Regions from separate parts of the Homo sapiens genome. Here region 2 is reported to be linked to region 1. Evidence: microRNA targets listed by miRTarBase, many of them from high-throughput screens and not tested one by one. Region 1 holds a microRNA gene; the other region holds the end of a gene's coding sequence.

What was found. Region 1 holds the annotated microRNA hsa-miR-675-3p (CUGUAUGCCCUCACCGCUCA, at 3,677-3,696, opposite strand). A microRNA usually pairs through its seed, bases 2 to 8, with sites in the 3' UTR of a target mRNA and lowers its output. Matches are read on the target gene's strand: a 7mer-m8 pairs with bases 2 to 8, a 7mer-A1 pairs with bases 2 to 7 and ends in A, and an 8mer does both.
Region 2: miRTarBase lists PROX1 as a target of hsa-miR-675-3p. Seed matches in the 3' UTR shown: 7mer-m8 at 506-512.

Annotation. Positions count from the first base shown.
Region 1 is chr11:1,993,092-1,998,612 of GRCh38, forward strand. It overlaps MIR675 (microRNA 675), which reads right to left and starts at 3,740; the gene lies at 3,668-3,740. It overlaps LINC01219 (long intergenic non-protein coding RNA 1219), which reads left to right. Exons shown (of 3, transcript NR_126400.1): 3 at 164-378. It overlaps H19 (H19 imprinted maternally expressed transcript), which reads right to left and starts at 4,751. Exons shown (of 5, transcript NR_002196.3): 1 at 3,427-4,751; 2 at 3,196-3,330; 3 at 2,988-3,100; 4 at 2,785-2,907; 5 at 2,085-2,703. It also overlaps a transcript of MRPL23 not described here. RefSeq lists enhancers at 4,263-5,110, 5,111-5,521.
Region 2 is chr1:214,035,309-214,040,308 of GRCh38, reverse strand. PROX1 (prospero homeobox 1) reads right to left here. Exons shown (of 5, transcript NM_001270616.2): 5 at 1-4,660. The coding sequence ends at 4,475. Among named protein-coding and RNA genes, the nearest start is that of PROX1, 50 kb to the right of the region's middle.

The sequences.
Region 1 (5,521 bases):
GGCTGCCCAGAGGTAGGCGCTGCCCCTGAGTACACGTCCTGCTCTCAGGGGGCAGCCAGCGTGGGCACAGCCATGGGCAGTGCTGGGAGATGGTGGGGGCCACCAAGAGGCCTGTGTCCCTTCCCCAGCGGGTGTGAGGAGGAACAGCCCTGTCCCCATACAGCTCCCAGGTGGAAACTCCAGAGCAAGCGTGTCATTCATACACCCCGGGCCCAGAGATGTGGACGTGTCCAGCACGCCTGTTCTCTCCAAGTGACCAGGAGGAGACAATCCCTAGGAGCTGACACAGGTGACGAAGGCCCGAGGTGGCCCGCCTTTTCCCCCGGCCCCATTCCCATGTGTCCTTCCCCAGGCAGGGATTTGAAGTGGGCAGAGTCTTCCATGTTCTCCAGGAGAGGTTTTCTGGGTGCCCCTCTCCCCCTCCCTACGGTTCCCCTGCCCCGCCACCCTGGGCACCCCTGGGGCTGCCTGCCGCACCCTGCAGCCGCCACCTGGGGAAGCCGGCTTTTATCTCCTGAGCCCTGCTTTGTAAACCTCCTGCAGAGTTGGATGTTTATAATAAAGGCCGTTTATAGACCTAACTCTTGACATGTAATGGATGGGTTACTTCATCCTGCCGGCCAAAACCCACTTGGGTAAGTCAAATTGGCCTGTAGGGTCAGGAAGATGAATGCGGCCTCACCCTGGGCTGGCCCCAGCGACCTCTGACCTCCTCCATGAGATGGCAGCCAGTCCCAGGGGCACCATCCCAGAGACTTCAAGAGACTCCCTCACCGGATGTCTACATGCATCCTGGGGGGTGACCACCCGCCCAGGTTTTAGCACACAAGTGTGTCCCTGGAAACCCCTCGGTCTCTGACAGTCCCCAGGGCCCACAGCTGGATGGGGAGGGGGCAAGAGAGGGTGCAGAGGGGAGGCCAGACCCAAGGGACGTGGGGAACCACCCTGCTCTTCCGCCCTGGACACCAAGACCCCAAGGGCGGCTGGGCCGGTAGGGGAGGGGCGTCCCTAACCGCCTTCCTGTCTGTTCTTTGTCAGTCGGGGAGGAATTTTCCTGACAGCTCTGTGCACTGGGAATGGGGGTGGAAGGCAGGGGGGAGGGGGGAAGGAATGGGGAGGCCGGGACCCCACCCTTATTTCCAGGGGCTGCCCCTTGTGTTCCCAGCGCCTGCACAGCGAGGGGCCGGGAGCTGGGAGGCCTGGCTGAGGGAGCTGCCGGCCACTGGCCTCTGCGGGGAAGCTGACCCGGAACCCATGAGTGGGCTGCCTTGGCACCTGGGGAGCGAACCCCTGCATACCGGGGTTCTTGGAGCTCCAGCAGCAAGACCCCGGGGAGGGAGCCCGGGAGCCCCTCACCCTGGGCCCTCCCGCTCCTCCTCACCTCCTCCCTGTGGCCACCCTCAACTTCTTCCTCCCTCCTCCTGGTCCCCTGGCCTCCTTAGGACCTCTGCCCCAAGGCCACCTGCCCACTGAGAAGCCCACCGGCTCCCCCACAACCCCCTGGCTCCTTGTGCGGGGCCGTCCCTCCGGCGTGGCCCCGGCTCCCACCCACAGCAAAAGGGGAGCAGGAACGGGACTGGCGCGGGGTTCGTGCCCCTGTCGGGGTGGGGTCGCCCAGAGCACCTTGTGGGCCTCCCAGAGCGGCCATGGCCAGCTCTACCCCAGTCACCTAGCCCGGGCTTCAGGGGTCTGGGGCCAGCACCAAGGCGTCATTCTGATGGGACTTTGGGGCGACAGGAGGCACTCGCTCGGGGATGGTTTGGTGGTCCCCGACCCCTGCCTCAGAGCGCAGGCCCCCTCCGCAAGCCCAGCCCCCGCCCAGTCTGTGAAGCCCCTGGTCCCACAGCCCCTCCACTGCCATCACTGCATGCTGACCGCCTGCCCTGCACCCCTGAGGTCCACACACCCTGTGCTCACCCCACCCCTGGTGTGTGCTGCGCTGCACCCATCCCAGAATCCCCCACCCTGGAACCCCCATCCCCCTTTTCATGTACTCCTCCCCATGCCCCCCAGCCCCCCTCTGCCCAAGGCTGGCCTCCCCCACATCATGCCCACAGCCCGGATTCCAGAGTCCTCGAGACAAATTGCTGTAACAGTGTTTATTGATGATGAGTCCAGGGCTCCTGCTGAAGCCCTGGTGGGGAGGGGCACAGAGCGAGATGGGGCGTAATGGAATGCTTGAAGGCTGCTCCGTGATGTCGGTCGGAGCTTCCAGACTAGGCGAGGGCAGGGTGAGGCCTCGGGCACACAGCCGGCGCCCAGTCACCCGGCCCAGATGGAGGGCGGCCGGGCCCTGCACAGGCACTTGCCAAGGTGGCTCACACTCACGCACACTCGTACTGAGACTCAAGGCCGTCTCCACAACTCCAACCAGTGCAAATGACTTAGTGCAAATTAAATTCAGAAGGGACGGGGGAAACAGAGTCGTGGAGGCTTTGAATCTCTCAGAAAAAAGGAAAGACAGGAAAGCTCAGAAACAAAGAGACAGAAGGATGAAAAAGAAGAAGAGGGAGGTGGTGGGGACGGCGTCATCCCGCTGGAGGAGCTCAGCTCTGGGATGATGTGGTGGCTGGTGGTCAACCGTCCGCCGCAGGGGGTGGCCATGAAGATGGAGTCGCCGGTGCGGGGTGGGTGCTGCGGGCGCTGCTGTTCCGATGGTGTCTTTGATGTTGGGCTGATGAGGTCTGGTTCCTCTAGCTTCACCTAGAGATAGCGACACGTGGGTGGGATGGGGGCAGGGTGCTCGGGGGCCTGGAGGCTTCCGGAAGGAGCGCTGGTGCTCACCTTCCAGAGCCGATTCCTGAGTCAGGTAGTGCAGTGGTTGTAAAGTGCAGCATATTCATTTCCAAGCTAGAGGGTTTTGTGTCCGGATTCAAAGGCCCAGGCTTGAGCTGGGTAGCACCATTTCTGTGGATGGGGAAGGAGTGAGGTCCCACTCAGCTCCTCTCGCGTGCCCCCCACCCCAAGTGTGGCAGGAAGCCCCTCACCTTTCATGTTGTGGGTTCTGGGAGCCCAGAGGGCAGCCATAGTGTGCCGACTCCGTGGAGGAAGTAAAGAAACAGACCCGCTTCTTGCCGCAGCCCCACCAGCCTAAGGTGTTCTGTAGAAGACAGAGGTCGGGGCAGTGAGATGGTGGCCCGGCGGGGCGGTCTGGGCAGGGCCGCGTCCTGACGCAGGGAGGGCAGACACGCTCACCAGGAAGGCCGGACGCGCCTCCTCTGTCCTCGCCGTCACACCGGACCATGTCATGTCCTGCTTGTCACGTCCACCGGACCTGGCGTCTTGGCCTTCGGCAGCTGGTGGGCACGTCCACCCCAGCTGGAGACCTGGCTGTGGGGAGAACGAGAGAGTCGTGTGGGGAGAACGTGTTGGTTGTGTGGGGAGGGGCGGGTGGGGGCTGAGGGTGGCAGAGGGGGAAAAACTCACCCTCGTCTCCAGCCCGAACGCTGAGGCACCGATCCCGGCTCCGTCGCCGCCCGCGAGGCCCGCCTTGGCCACGGGCTCTGGAGGCCAGTGCCTCCCGCTCGCCGCCCGCTGCGCTCCTCACCCCTGCCTGCACCATCCTCCCTCCTGAGAGCTCATTCACTCCGCCCCGCCCGCCTCGCCTAGTCTGGTCTCGCCCCATGCCCTTGACTCCCCTGGATGCTGTACTGTCTGCCAAGCCAGCCCCAGGGGCTGAGCGGTGAGGGCATACAGCGTCACCAAGTCCACTGTGGGCCCTCTCCGCACCAGACCCTGGGCCGCAGTGCCTCGTGGGACCGGCGCCCGCAGGCCGAGCCCCTGCAGCCTCCTTGCTGCGCAATGTCCCGGGGCCCCCCTCCCGTGGCCGCTTCGCCCTCCTGGTGACGTCCTGCTGCAACTCCCCGAGCACTGCCTGTCTTCCCGCTCTCCAGCCCTCGAGGCTCCGGCATAGGCCTGAGAAAGCCGTGCCGGAGCTGCCCCTGTGCCTGCTACTAAATGAATTGCGGTGGGTGAGGTGGCAGCTGGGGACCCCTCTGTCCTGTGTCCCCTGCCATGTCCCTGTCTGACCCAGGCCTGGGGTACCACCCCACGTGCTGGACCCTACGCTGGCCACCCCTGTGCTCCCTCCCTGCCCTCTTGCTCTTTCTGCCTGGAACGGGCCCATAACCCCCCAGCCTTGCGCAGTCTCGGCTCCCCCCGAGAAGATGTCACCTTTGCTAACTCTCCTGCCCCCATCCTGCCCCTCTGCTGGGAGGGTGTCTGCTTCTCCCCGCCAGCCCTCGATCCCCTAAACCTCCTTCTTTCAGAAGGCTGGGGAAGCGAGGCCTGGGGAGGGAAGGGACTCACCTGCCCGGCAGATGGGGTCCTCACCTGCCCGCTGCTGCCAGCTACACCTCCGTTGCCCAGGCCCTGGGATCAAACCCTGCCCACCAGCTCCCCTCGTCCAACCAGCTGCCACGTCCTGTAACCAAAAGTGACCGGGATGAATGCCTGGCTCCCCCTTCTTTCCAGCCCTAGCTCAGGCCCATCGTCCCCAGCTGATGTCGCCCTGTCTGCACGATGCCTGGGCGCCTACTCCACACTCCTCACTGGCCTCAGGCCCCACCAGCCCTGCCTCGAGCTAGCCCCTCCACCCGTCATCACTCCTGCCAGACTCCAGATGTCCAAGGTGCTCCTTGGCTCCCACAAGCTCTCCTCCAGCACCCCATCTTCCCCTGGTTGCCCCTCGGTTCCCCACTTCCCCAGTTTCCCCCGTTACCCCCCACCCATCCCACCCCCTCCCTCACCCTGCTCCTCGGTCCTAGCCCGGGCTTTTTCTAACTGGGGTGGCCCCGCCCAGAATTCCCGCCCCTGCCCTGCCGGCCAATCAGAGCAGGGCCCTCCCGAGGGCCCCCGCAGGGCCCACCTCCGCCCTGGACAGTTCCAGCACACGTCTCTCTCACCCAGCACCCATCCTGGAATTCTCCAAAGACGGCCTCCCCGCACCCCTCCTTTGGCATCCGGAGACAGGGCTGAGCATTGCCCCATCACCTCCCTCAGGGTCCAGGACTTCTCCCTCCCAGACCACTGTCTCCCCTCAGGGGACACCATGCCTGCTGCTCCCTGCCTGCCAGCGCCCTGCACATACTTTGCACATGGCTGGGGGCCAGCTGCGGGTCCCTGGGGACTCGGATGGCACAGAGGGCCCCTTCCTGCCACCATCACGGCTCAGACCTCACGTTCCTGGAGAGTAGGGGTGGGGTGCTGAGGGGCAGAGGGAAGTGCCGCAAACCCCCTGGTGGGCGCGGTGCCAGCCCCCCAGGCCGATTCCCATCCAGTTGACCGAGCTTGTGCTGGTCACCGCGGTTTCCGCAGGACAGAGTCCCCACAGCCGCTGGGCACCCCGGTCCCATTCGCGGCCACTTTCCTGTCTGAAGACCGCATGTTGCCGGGCTGTGCTTACGGCTCGCGGGCGCACTCTACTGACAAGCGGTGGGCGGCCTCACAGACTCTCCCAGGCCCGCGTGGGGCACCACGGTTGGGAGTGGAGTGGAGACTGGCGAGTTTCGACTCCCCCAGC
Region 2 (5,000 bases), not on the chromosome of region 1:
CACATTCTGTTATATTCTTAGAAGGATAATTATAAGAAGATGCAAAGGTTAAATACCAGTTTTGATCCCAGCTCTGAATATGAGCATTTTAGCTTTAGTTTTATAGATGGTTTACAACCAACAGATCTACAGAAAACAAAACTGCATTTCCTTCAACATAACATTTAAGTGCAATACGGTAACTGCTTACTCATATAAACCAGTTACATTTTTTAAGGGGAGCTTTTTGAAAACAATGCTTCTTGTAAATTTGCAAACACAGAGTTTGTACCAGAAGGAAACATTTGTACTATTCACACCAATGAATACGCTATAATATACATGGCAAAGAGATTTTTGCACTGTCTTCACATATACACTGCTTCTTTCAGGGGAGTCTGTAAACTACTCTTTCTTTCATAAATTTATGATTGTTCCTGGAGGACATCCTATTTTTTAAAGTCCCCAAATCATTAGCTTTATGACAGTGTGTGTGTTTGTGTGTGTGTGTGTGTGTGTGTGTGTGTGTATGCGCACATGTGCGCATGGGAAGGGGGGGTGTTACTTACTAAATGTCTTCATGTACATAGAAAAAGAAATTTCATAAATTTACAGAAACTGCATTACCCTTGCCCTTGACATCTGATAAAAGAGATTGTTAACTTTTAAAAGGAGAGAGCAGGATTTTCAAGAATGCTTTCAACTGTCTATACAGTCACTGTAGTGTTCCTAGTAAATTCAACAGATGTCGTGAGAATGTAGTTATTTATTAAAATCTCATGTCTTACATAATGACAGCCATGAGGTTAAATATTTACATTGCTTTATAAAAGTTCCCCTCTTGCTTTAGTGTTTCTGTTTTGCTTTTTTTTTGTTGTTTTAAATTTTTTTAAATGATATTCACCCACATCCCTAGTACAGTGACAAAGATTCTGCAAACATAAAACACTTCTTTAATTAAATAATACTCGGAGGCACAAAGCAAACTTCAGGAATATGTGGGTGAACGTTTACTTAAATAATTACTACATTCTAACATCTTCCATGTGTTTTACCATTTAATGTGAAACGTCCTCATTAAACAGCCAGAGATACAGTAAGAATTAAATGTTTTGTTGCAAATAGAACATTCTTTTCACAAAACATAACAAATGTCTAAAATAGGTTCTTAAATCTAGATAGGAAAAGGTAAGCTTTCCACTTCACACGCATATATATATATGTATATTTTTACATGTGTGTATATGTGTGTATGTGATTTTATGTTCACACATCTGCGCACACATATATAGCACATGGTATGAAATATTGCTTCTATACTACTTTTCATTAGGCTAAGAAAACACAAGATTTGCACCACAGTTACAAAAAATTGGCTTCTACAAGAATTTTCAAAACTCGAATGCTGCTCAAACAATTGAGGAAAAAATAATTTGCGGTATCAAACTGTTCTAAAAATTCTCTTCTTCAAAAACGTATTCTCCCGCTTTGTTTTAAAAAGACACAAAATATGCATAGCTATCAACGTTATGTCAAACAGCCAGAAAAAAAATCTAGTGTTTATTGCAGCTGTAGTAATTGGAAATAAAGTCAAAAAGATGAAATCGAAAGCCACAGAAGGCACAAGAACAATTGTACTTGTTGGGAAAAAACTGGTATTTTGAAGGATTTTTTAAAATCCCCCCCGCTGGTGCATTTTAGGTCTAGGCACAGACTATAACCTCAAGCGTATACGCAAAAATAATTTAGGGTTAGCAGAAAATAAGTGGTAGTGTGGTTTTTCAACATGGACTTTAGACTTTTTTTTTTCTTTTCCTATGTAAACTGTCCCTCATCCTTCACCATCCCACCATAGAAAGTTAACTTTCTCCCAAGTAGCCAATTTTCACTTGGTGAGAGTTGAGCTAAGATTTGAAAGATGGTGATTAAAAAAAAAAAATCAAACTGTTAAATAGGAATTTGGAGAGACAGGCTTTTGTCATTTTCCAATGCACTTGGGAGGCACAAGATTTCGATTGTAAAAGGGAAAACCACCGGAAAGCATAGTGATAAAGTTCTATTTTCAGAACAAAGAGGTGAGTTTATCCTCATGCTGCAATTTCTACTCTGAAATAATTTCTATGCCTCAGTGAACATTGAGAGGATATTATCAGTAGATAAGGGCATCAACATTTGGTTGTGAACACACACTTTTGCTTAATTTGTCTATTTAAATTAGAAAGGGAGGGGAAAATAATACTAAAAAAATCCAAATAAGTCTGGAATCAATATTGAACTCGCCCCAGATCAAAAAGATATCTAGCAATCTGTCTACATAGGTGAATACACTACAGCTTTGCCTTTTACCTTGCAAATGGCAACACAAAGTTGATATGAATTACACGGAACAGCAAAAACCCAGTGGCACACTGACACGAACAAGGACTGCCATCCTCTTTTAAAACAAAGCCAGTCAGAAAACTGTGACTACAAGTTGGGATTACTTCCCTATTTTGTGCTGATGGAATTTTTCCTTCCCACTTTATTCCAATGTCATGATTATCCAAACTGCTTTTTTTTAAAGCAAGTGAGAAAAATAACAAATTGGATCTAATGACTCTGTGCATTAGTAGAGTGTGAGCTGGGAGATGTGTGAGGCCGCGGGTGCAGAGTGAGGTGGCTGGTGCCCCCGCCCGTGTGGCTGCACCCTCTGTCTACACTGCGAGGCCCTGTTAGTCCCCTGGATGGTGCAGGGCATCATAGGACTGCACCATTTAATTTAAAGTCAGCAGGTTTTAAGGCTTTGTGCTGACAATAATTGAGTTCATACATTCCTGTCCATCAGCAGAATTTATAAATGACGTTAAATTACAGCGATCGGGTCAGCTAGTCAGTCACATGGGTCAAGACCTGTATTCTCCAAAGTCAAATGTAATTCTTATTAAAGTTGAATTAAAAAATGGCATTTATGTTCTATATGTTCTAAATACCAGATTTGTTACTGTGTCATTTTAGGAGGTGTATATCAAATTACCTAAGGGGAAGGAAGGGTCTGGAAAACAGTTTTAGGATGAACAATGAATTCTTACTGCATCTGGACACAAAAACCCACCTAAGAAAAAAAGTGTGAATGCCATACGAGTTTTTTCAATGCAAGTAGGGAACACTGTACATCATTGAAAAACAGGGAAAAATAAAAGGGAAAAAAGAGGAGAACCATGGAAGAAAGCATAAAATAGCAGCTAGCTTTCTTATGTGTGCTGGAATTGTGTCTTTTGGGTTAACCCCAAATTTTCCTATGCTATACACTCTTCTCACATTTTGGTCAATACTAGCTTCTGAATTGGAAGAGGCATTATCAATTGCTTTAAAATGTTATACCTAAAATGAAGAAACACTGAGTTAGACTGTCACCACTTTGCATACCCATCAGGATAGTGTGGAATTGCTTGTGAAAATATATGTGTTCCTCTTAGGAGATGACGATCAAGTCAGCTAATGGCTGTCAACAAACTTCTAGTGTAGGCAAGAATTTTATGGCCAAGTTGGGCTTTCCTTTATTCCTTACTGGAAGGAAGTATTCAGAAAATAGTATTTTAGGGGAAAAAATTGTTAAGTAAACAGAATCCTTTTAAGCATATAAACAAAGTTGAGCAGCGTAAATTGGAAACTTAGTGCCTTTTAGTATCTGAAGCAAAAATGATAACAAGTTATAGGATTTTTCTTTATGAAGAATGATGTAAGCTCACTTATGAAGAAGAACCTATTTTCAAGTTTAGAGAGGTGGCTACAAGACCAGGTATGAATTTCTAGTCTCATCTTGAGAGAGCTGGTTTTGTGCAAAATTGCTTTGCCTCCAGAAGAAACTGGTACGACTTTCAGAGTTTGCCTCTTTTCTTAGACAAGGCTTGAGAGTGATTATTTTTCTTTTTTAATTTGGCCTTTTGGGGTACTTTGGAAAAGTGAGCTGCTCATCTGTCATTGGAATTATTTTTAAACATGTAAGGAAAAGCTACTGATTGAGTTCAAACCAAACAAAATACTTAAATGTATGAAGTGGTTTCATTAAATTTTCAGACCTTCTTAGCAGTAGAAACAAGAGACACATCACTGTCTGTAGAGTTGTGCTGTGTCATGGGTTTTCCTCAGCCAACCGCCATTTGCAATAAGTCATCAATCAAGTGGATGCATCGTTAACAAATTCCCTTCATTGCTAATAGAGACTTTACACACGCCAACATTCTTTTTCCCTGAAAATTAACCCTATTTTAAGTGTCCAAATGTTAAGGGCCTTGGGCAAAAGCAAACTAAAGGCAGAAAGAAAACAACCATCCCCTTGCAATGGAAAACAAAAGAAAATGAGAGAAACGTGATGAGGAGGAATTACCAGCTGATTTCATAACATATCCATGCCTCCCATACACATATATATGAAATCAAAATCTAGACACATATAACTTGGACATCCAAAGGGGACTGCTACTCTTCATACATTCAAAAAGAGTTGTTGAAATTTCTACTCATGAAGCAGCTCTTGTAGGCAGTTCGGGGATTTGAAAATCTCAGGGACTTCACTATCCAGCTTGCAGATGACCTTGTATATGGCCTTCTTCCAGGAAGGATCAACATCTTTGCCTGCGATAATGGCATTGAAAAACTCCCGTAATGTGATCTGAGCAACTTCCAGGAATCTCTCTGGAACCTGCTGATACAAGGAGACAATGGCATTAATAAAGTTTTCAGTTTCAAGTCTACAGTTATTCCAAGGAAACTGAGCTAAGATCATTCTTGCAGAAAGGGGCTTACATGGCACCTGCATTTTCTAAAAATAGCTGGCTTCTATTCTTTTAATGTAAAGTCATTATATATAGAAGCATTGTGATGTGGGGTTGACAGCTTTGTTTTAAGAAGAGTGTATGAAAGATCCAACGCAGACCTATTGAAAAACTGGGATTTCATTGTGGATATTAGGATAGGAATATGGGATGTGACTTTTGGGATTCCTCACTTTATTAAATAAGTGCTATCCAGAAGAAAGTCTC